Linked DNA regions of Homo sapiens. The protein of the gene in region 2 interacts with the protein of the main gene of each other region in a pairwise test. Each region holds a gene or a part of one and is shown on either strand. Other genes may lie near its edges. The genes, in order: MORC3 and KALRN.

Evidence for each region.
Region 1: the proteins of KALRN (region 2) and MORC3 interact in a two-hybrid assay, tested with the Homo sapiens proteins (one large-scale study listed by BioGRID and IntAct).

The regions. Positions count from the first base shown.
Region 1 is NC_000021.9:36,326,554-36,330,358, reverse strand, and holds part of MORC3 (MORC family CW-type zinc finger protein 3), read right to left. Parts: intron 452-3,805; exon of another isoform or gene 366-451; intron 1-365.
Region 2 is NC_000003.12:124,031,714-124,036,277, reverse strand, and holds the start of KALRN (kalirin), read right to left. Parts: upstream 2,910-4,564; 5' UTR 2,538-2,909; coding exon 2,465-2,537; intron 1-2,464. UniProt on the Homo sapiens protein: Promotes the exchange of GDP by GTP. Activates specific Rho GTPase family members, thereby inducing various signaling mechanisms that regulate neuronal shape, growth, and plasticity, through their effects on the actin cytoskeleton.

The DNA.
Region 1 (3,805 bases), on a different chromosome or scaffold from region 2:
GGAAATGTTTGGGTTAAGACAAGGATTGTGGAGACCAAAGTTTTACTACGCAGAGGAAGCTCTTAGCTAGCAGGCATAAGACAGAAGAGGCTGTAAAATGTTTTCTTATGAGACTGAAAAGGGTGCCTGACTCTTAATTGATTATCTCCTGGATCTGGAAAGAAAAAAAAAAGGGAATGGCCAGGTGCGGTGGCTCAGGACGGGTCTGGTGGCTCACACCTGTAATCCCAGCGCTTTGGGAGGCCAAGGCTGGTGGATCACCCAAGGTCAGCAGTTTGAGACCAGCCTGACCAACATGATAAAACCCCATCTTTACTAAAAATGCAAAATTAGCTGGGCCTGGTGGCTCATGCCTGTAATCTCACCTACTTGGGAGGTTGAGGCAGGAGAGTTGCTTGAACTCAGGAGGCGGAGGTTACAGTGAGCTGAGATCAGGTCATTGCACTCCAATCTGGGCAACAAGAGCGAAACTCCGTCTCAAAAACAAAAACAAAAAAAAACAAAAAAAGAAAAGAAAAAAGGGAAAAGAGGATTCTCTACACAATGTACATTTTTTTCCACAAGAGACAAACTTTGCAAGGCAATTTCAAGATATGACAAGGAAATCTATTTAGAATTATTTTTATTTCTTTCCTTGTTATGTGATGTTACGCCAGAGCAGTATAATGAAGCAGGTCTGACCCCAACTTCCTGTCATGGCCTGAACTAGTCTTTCAGATTAAATGTTAAGAGTGCCCTGGCTGAGAAGGAAGTCCATTAAAATGGTTGGAAGAGCCTTAGAATTTTATTTTTGGTTTATACTACCAAACAAGGAGAAATTAGTCAACTACTATAAACCCTTAGTCTCCTGTACTTCTGACAGACCAACCATAAATTGGGCATTCACATGATTCCCCTCATGTTTGATAATGTGCTATAATGCTCACAAAACCCAAAAAAAACACTGATTCATTGTAAAGCAAGCCTGTCCAACCCTCAGCCCCCATGGGATGCATGTGGCCCAGGACAGCTTTGAATGCAGCCCAACACAAATTTGTAAACTTTCTTTTTTTTTTTTTGTTTTTGAGATGGAGTCTCGCTCTGTTGCCCAGGCTGGAGTGCAATGACATAATCTCGGCTCACTGCAACCTCTGCCTCCCGGGTTCAAGCGATTCTCCTGCCACAGCTTCCCAAGTAGCTGAGATTACAGGCAACTGCCACCACGCCCAGCTAATTTTTTTGTATTTTTGGTAGAGACATGATTTCACCATGCTGGCCACGCTGGTCTCGAACTGCCGACCTCAGGCGATCCGCCCACCTCGGCCTCCCAAAGTGCTGGGATTACAGGCATGAGCCACCCTGCCCGGCCTGTAAACTTTCTTAAAACGTTATGAAGTTTCTTTCGTGATTTTTTTTGTTGTTGTTGTAGTTCATCAGCTATCGTTACAATTTCTTTTTCTTTTTTTTTTTTTTACCTCATCAGCTATCGTTAGTATATTTTATGTGTGTGTGGCCCAAGACAATTCTTCTTCCAATGTGGCCCAAGACAATTCTTCCAATGTGGCCCAGGGAAGCTAAAAGATACAATGTAAAGGATATTACAGACTGGGCCCAGTGGCTCACACCTGTAATCCCAGCACTTTGGGAGGCTGAGGCAAGTGGATCACCAGAGGTCAGGAGTACAAGACCAGCCTCGTTGACATGGTGAAACCCTGTCTCTATTAAAAATACAAAAAATTGGCCAGGCGCGGTGGCTCATGCCTGTAATCCCACCACTTTGGGAAGCCGAGGTGAGTAGGTCAACTGAGGTTAGGAGTTCAAGACCAGCCTGGCCAACATGGCGAAACCTTGTCTCTACTAAAAATACAAAAAATATCCAGGCGTGGTGGTGCGCGCCTGTGTCCCAGCTACTGGGGAGGCTGAAGCGGGAGAATCACTTGAACCCAGTAGGTGGAGACTGCGATGGCGCCACTGCACTCCAGCCTGGGCGACAGAGGGAGCATGAACTAAGGTGTGGTTAAAAAAAAAAAAAAAAAAGGCGGGGGGGGGCTTATTATTATAAATAACAAAAGATGTTCCACTCATAGTTATCAGGAAATACCAAAGATTTCAGGAACTCCAGTGCCAAGAACCAGGACAAAGAACAAATATACATTTTTGATCATATCAAATGTATGTAAATGTGAAATAAAAAATATAGGACAGCTGGGCGTGGTGGCTCACACCTATAATCCCAGGACTTTGGGAGGCCGCGGCAGGTGGATCATTTGACGTCAGGTGTTTGAGACCAGCCTGGCCAACATGGTGAAACCCCGTCTCTACTAAAAATACAAAAATTAGCTAGACCTGGTGGCACACACCTGTAATCCCAGCTACTTGGGTGGCTGAGGCATGGCAATCACTTGAACCCAGGAGGCAGAGGTTGCAGTGAGCCAAGATCATGCCACTGCACTCCAGACTGGGCAACAGAACAAGACTCTGTCTCAGAAAAAAAAAAACAAAAAAGGAGGCCACTGTTTTGGACTAAGCTCCTGCTCTAGGCCTCCAAAAACAGACTAAAAATCAAAATGGAGTCACCCATGCTAAAATTTCAGTCACCAAACTGAAACTAAGTTGTTATCTGACCTTCAGCGAAATCAAGGGAGATAACAGCCAATTTACCGAACAGGTCAGTTTCAGTCATCAACTGGTATGACAGATAATAAGTTCCCTCCATTTTGTTGTTTTACAACAAAAAGTAACCTAATGTCAGTCAGTTATTTATCTATTGTTTTTAACTTTGAAATGACGTATCTGCTTTTTGTTCTTTGTTTCTGCTTTCTTTCGGCCTTTTTCTGTCTACAAAGCCAGCCTCCTCTGTTCAGTTCACTAGAACACTTACTGTATTTTATGGAAGAAGTGTTGCCCAATTCCAGAATAGGAAATAAAGGCCAAGCACGGTGGTTCACTCCTGTAATCCCAGCACTTTGGGAGGCTGAGGCGGGCAGAACACTTGAGGTTAGGAGACGAGCCTGGCCAACATGGCAAAACCCCGTCTCTACCAAAAGCCAAAAAAATTAGCCAGGTGTGGTGGTGAGCGCCTGTAATCCCAGCTACTCAGGAGGCTGTGGCAGGAGAATTGCTTGAACATGGGAGGAAGAGGTTGCAGTGAGCTGAGAGATCTCACCACTACACTCCAGCCTGGGAGTGTCTGTCTCAAAAAAAAAAAAAAAAAAAAAAAAAAAGAAATAAAGCCAATTAATATCTTTAAATTTAAATTTGAGGCCAGGCGCGCTGGCTCACGCCTGCTGTAACCCCCGCACTTTGGGAGGCTGAGGTGGGCGGATCACCTGAGGTCAAGAGTTCAAGACCAGCCTGGGCAACATGGCAAAACCCGTCTCTACTAAAAATACGAAAATTAGCCGGGCGTGGTGGCAGGTGCCTGTAAACCCAGCTACTAGGGAGGCTGAGGCACAAGAATCGCTTAAACCCGGGAAGCAGAGGTTGCAGTGAGCCGAGATCGCACCAATGCACTCCAGCCTAGGCGACAGAGCGAGACTCGGTCTCAAAAAAAAAAAAAAATCTTTAAATTTATAATGTTGTCTTCTGACATACAATAAAATATTCACCTTAAGCAAACAAGGAAATCCTAACGCACACTACAACATGGATGAACCGTGAAGACATTAATGAATAAGGCAGTCACAAGTCAAATATTGTATAATTCCACTGATAGGAGTACAGCAGTCTCCCCTTATTCTCAGAGAATGCATCTCAAGACCCTCAGTGGATTCCTAAAACTGCAGTATACATATGTATGATAAAGTTCAACTTATAAATAAGGCAC
Region 2 (4,564 bases):
AAAACACATGGACACAAAGAGAGGAATAACAAACACCGGAGCCTACTTGAGGGTGGAAGGTGGGAGGACAGAGAAAATCAGAAAAAATACCTATCAGGTACTATGCTTATTACCAAGGTGATGAAATAATCTGTATACGAAACCCCTGTGACACACAGTTTATCTATATAACCCATACATGTACCCCTGAACCTAAAATAAAAATTAACAACAAAAAATAAAAATAAAAAGAAGAAGAAGAATCCCCAGCAAGAGCCTAGGCTAGAGACCAGAAGTGTGGTGACAGTCAGTGAGCCAAGCATAGAGGGCCACACAGGGTGGATGTAGTCCTTGACCTACCCCCTCTTGCAACATGTTACAGGTCATCAGTCATTTCCAGCCTCATGCACCAATGACTTAACCTTTCTCTGATACTAAGTGCACATCAGACTTAGCTCAGCCACTGGGCTGCCCAAGGAGGAGGGAGAATATCCCCAACATAGGAATCCCACAGGAGACTGACCCCAGTCTGCTATTTATTCTGTGATTTGAGCCAGGGTTAGATAATGTGTGCCACACCTTGTGTTTTGAAAGGCCCTGGGAAAAGTAACACATTGGACTATTATTGGCCATTAACACTGTGTGAATTTATTATCAGAAATAAGCAAGCCTCCAGGAACTGAGCTCTGCTACGGGTGCCTGGAACAGAAAATGAACAGGACCTAGTGTTTGGATGATAGGAAAGGGGAAAGAGGAGTGGGCACCAAAAGGTAAAAGTGGAGTCCAGAAAGGGAAGGTGGGAAGGCTCACACTTCAAGATTTTTCCCTCAGAGCTAAGAAAATGCAGACTTTTGCCCCAGTTGGGAGGCAAGGGGGGTCAGCTGGGTTTTTGATTGACTGGTCAATTTGTTTCTAGTCCCAGTTATGAATTCCCATATCTCCCCTCCTCTGCCTCATAATGAGTATTTCTGAATATCACTTAGCCCCCAGAACCACCTTTTCCCTAGATTCCACCTCTTTAGAATCCATGCTTTTGGGTGCTGGGCTGTGTGTGTATGAGAGAGAGAGAGAGAAGAAAGAAAATAGAATCCATGTCTCGGAAGAGGAAGGAGGGAAGGAAGGAGGAAGAAAGAAAAGGAAAGAAGGCTTAGACCTGGGAAGCAGAATAGAATGACAGGGCTCCCTCTGATTTCCCCAGACCCTGGCACCAGCTCCTGTCCTCCAGTTTTTTCCTCTGCACATCAACTAGAGAATGAACATATGAGCCAATCAAGTCTTGACTTCCAAAGCCACAAGTCTCCCCCGCAAAGCACCCCACCCCCTTCCCTAGAGATGACCTCCAGGGCAAGGTAACAGGGTTAGGAAACAGATGGATGTGCAGAGACCCTCCAGAGCTAACCTGACCCCTGACCCCCACCAGTTCATGTCCTCTAATCCAACTTTCCAGAAGGGAGAGCAGATGCATGGGGCCCCGGTAACTTACTGGACTCCTTGGGACAAAGATTCCAGACAAAACTGTTTCAGACATGTGGGGAGATGGGGAGCTACACACAGAAGCTGGTGGAAGCCACAGGTACAGGGAGACGGGGAATCCCTGGCCATCAGAGAAACAGGGCCACAGGTGGTGGAAGATAAGGGTGGTCAGTGCCGGTTCTAGGGAGGGACTGTGTAGCCAGGGAGCAGGAGGAGCAATGGACCCGGGACTTGGACGATGGCAGGGGCGCAAAGAGCTAGAAAGACATCTCAGGGCTCTACACCTCACAGCAAGCAGAGACTTAGTGGGTGTGTATGAGAGGGACGCTAACTCACACTTCCAGGAATGAGTAATTCTTATGAATAGCTCCTCCGTTCCCAGAACTGAAGAGGAGGACAAGGGGGAGGTCCGAGGCGCCCACCGCCCTCCCAGCTGGGTCTGCCTCTCAAGTCAGAGGGACCAGCTCCCCACACGCACCAGGCGAGACCGATGTCTTCCGCCCCACTCCTGTCAGTCTGCAGCCGGCGCGGCTCCGGGTCCCCGCCGCCCCTCTGTGCACATCAGGGCCCCGGGCCCCCGACGGCGAGGAGGGGTGCCGACCCAGGGCGGCCGCCGGGAGCCCCGCTGACAGGCACAGGGGAGGGGGAGCCAAGGGAGGGGCCGGGACGCCGGTAGCCGGAGCGGCGCGCTGCAAAGTGAGCCAACACCGCCCATCCCCGCGCTCTGGGAGAAGGCGGTCCGAGGGGACCGCCTCCCACCTCCCCAACACAGACTCCCGCAACTGGGGTGAAGGCGGAGGGGCGCGGAGTTCCCAGCCCCCACGCCCTCCCCAGACGCAGCCAGCACTGCCATAACAACCAGAATCTCGGCAACTCCAGCCCCGACGCCGAGGGGGCACTGCCCCCCAACACGCACGCGGCAGCAACAGCCCTCCTTCCCCAAACTTGTCCGAGACGCCGCGTCCGAGGCAGTAGCCTTCAGCCCTGGCCCCCCGCGCCCTGCCCGGCTTACCTGTCCGGAAAAAGGCGTCCACGTCCGAGTCTGCTGCTCCTCCTTCCTCCGCTGCTCCCTCAGGGGGGTTCATGACTGTGGGAGGGCGTCCGCGGGCAGCCGGGAGCCGAAGAAGCCTGGGGCCGAGGGCTGCTCGGCGCCCGGTGGGCGGAGGGCGCGGGGCGCAGCTGCTGCGGCCGCAGAGCTGGCGGCCGCGGAGCTTCGAGGGCGGGCGTTGGGCGGCGGGGCTGGGGCAGAGGACGCTGAGCCTCCCTCAGGCGGAGGCGCGCGGCGGGCTGGGGGTGCCTGCCGCCAGCTCCCCCATGGTACCCCTTCCCCAGGGCGCTGGCCGCCTGCTGTCTGGCTGGGGCCGGGGCCCGGGGCCGGGGTGCGGGCTGCCTGGGCGCCCGCTGTCCCCCAGCAGCGGCAGCTGGCTCTCCTGCTCGCCCGTCTGCCTGTCTCTATTGTTCAGCCCTGCTCCGCTCTCTCCTCTTTATTTTTCCTCCTCCCTCCCACCCTCCCTGTCTCCCTACCTCCTCCCTCCCTCGCTCACTCGCTCACTCGCTACCTCCCTCCTTCGCTCGCTCGCTCTCTAGCTCCCCCTCTGGCTCCCGCCGCCGCCGCCGCCGCAGCAGCCGCCTCCCCAGCTCCTCCCCCGGCTCCCGCTCCCTCAGTCCCGGCCAACAATGACCCCGGGAGCGCCGAGCTGAATTGAAGCTCCGGCCGGGGCCGAGGGCTCGCTGCGGGCCCCCGGCGGCGCCTACGCCCCCAGTCCCAGCGGCCCCGCGCCGGCCTCCCGGGGAGCGGAGCCCGAGTCCCGAGCTATTGTTCGAGGCTGTGCTAGGCCGGCTTCCTGAGCTCCGCAGGAAAAGCCCGGGCCAGGGAGGGGGCGGGGCCGCCGGGCGAGCCCGGGGCTGCAGGGCACACGCCAGGCTTGTCCAGGGGGCTCTGCGGCCCGGGCGCTGCGCGCTCAGCTTCTCCGCTCGCGCCGCCGGTGCTCCTCCCGGCCCCGCGGCCACCTCCTCCGTCCACTCCACTCCCAGGTGTGTGAGGGGACCACCAGGCTGCCCGCCCGCCTTCTCTGGATCTTCAGATCGGTCTCCAAGCTGGACTGACCTGTCCCTAGAGGCCGGCCTTTCTTCCCCTCCTTCCTGACGAGCTCTCTTCTGTCTCCCTGCCCTCCTGAGCCTCTCACATTTTCCTCACCAGCTCGCCACAGTTTCTCTCCTTTTTATCTTTTCTCGTCCTTTTCCCCTTTTCAGCGCCCCTTTAAACATCTCCGCCTGTCTCTGTGACTCTTTGTCCAGTTTAATGCTCCTGTGATGTCTCCCTGCCTATCTCTCCCTCCCTCCGTCACTCTCTTGTCCCTCGTTTGTCTCTGTCCTGCCTCCGTACTTGGCCCGTATCTCCGCGCTCCTCTTGGACAGCTGTCAAAACTCTCTAATCCCTGGGGCCTTCTCGGTTTTGTTCTCCCTCATGTGAATGGAGAGATCCAGTTGGCCAGGAGGAAGGAGGTGTTACAGCAAGCTGAATTTCAATTAAAGTGGGGAGAGGGGCTGGGGAGGAATGGGGATGGCTGCAAAAAAGAAAACAGATGCTGTATGGGGTAATTAATGCGGTGATTGTATTGTGCCCATCAGTTTTTAAGCAATAATTAAACAATAATTAGCCAGTAGTGTGTTTATGGTTCTAGTGACTACAGAGCCCACCAAACAGAGGGTCTTTAAGACCTGAGTACTTAATAAGGTCTGCTGAGCGCTGTTCGCTGTTGCCTCATCCAGACAGATGGAGAAGTGGTGGCCTGACCTAATGTGTTAAAACACGCCTAATAGGAAAACCAGGTACTGGTCTGAAGTTAATGACTGCAACCCATCAGACAGAATCTCCTGGATCTGTTTGTCTCTAGTAACCTGTTTGGTTCCACCTCTCTCTGGGGGCCAAGGCAACTGGGGCCTATGCAGATCCACCAACTGTGTAAACTTGTAGCAAATAAAATGAATTAAATTAGTTTTTAGTGAACACTTTCTGGCTCCCTGTACGCATCACGTTCTTCACTGACACAAACAGTCTAATTTTTTTTCACCCATTAAAAAAAAGTACCTGTTTCCAACCTTGGATACA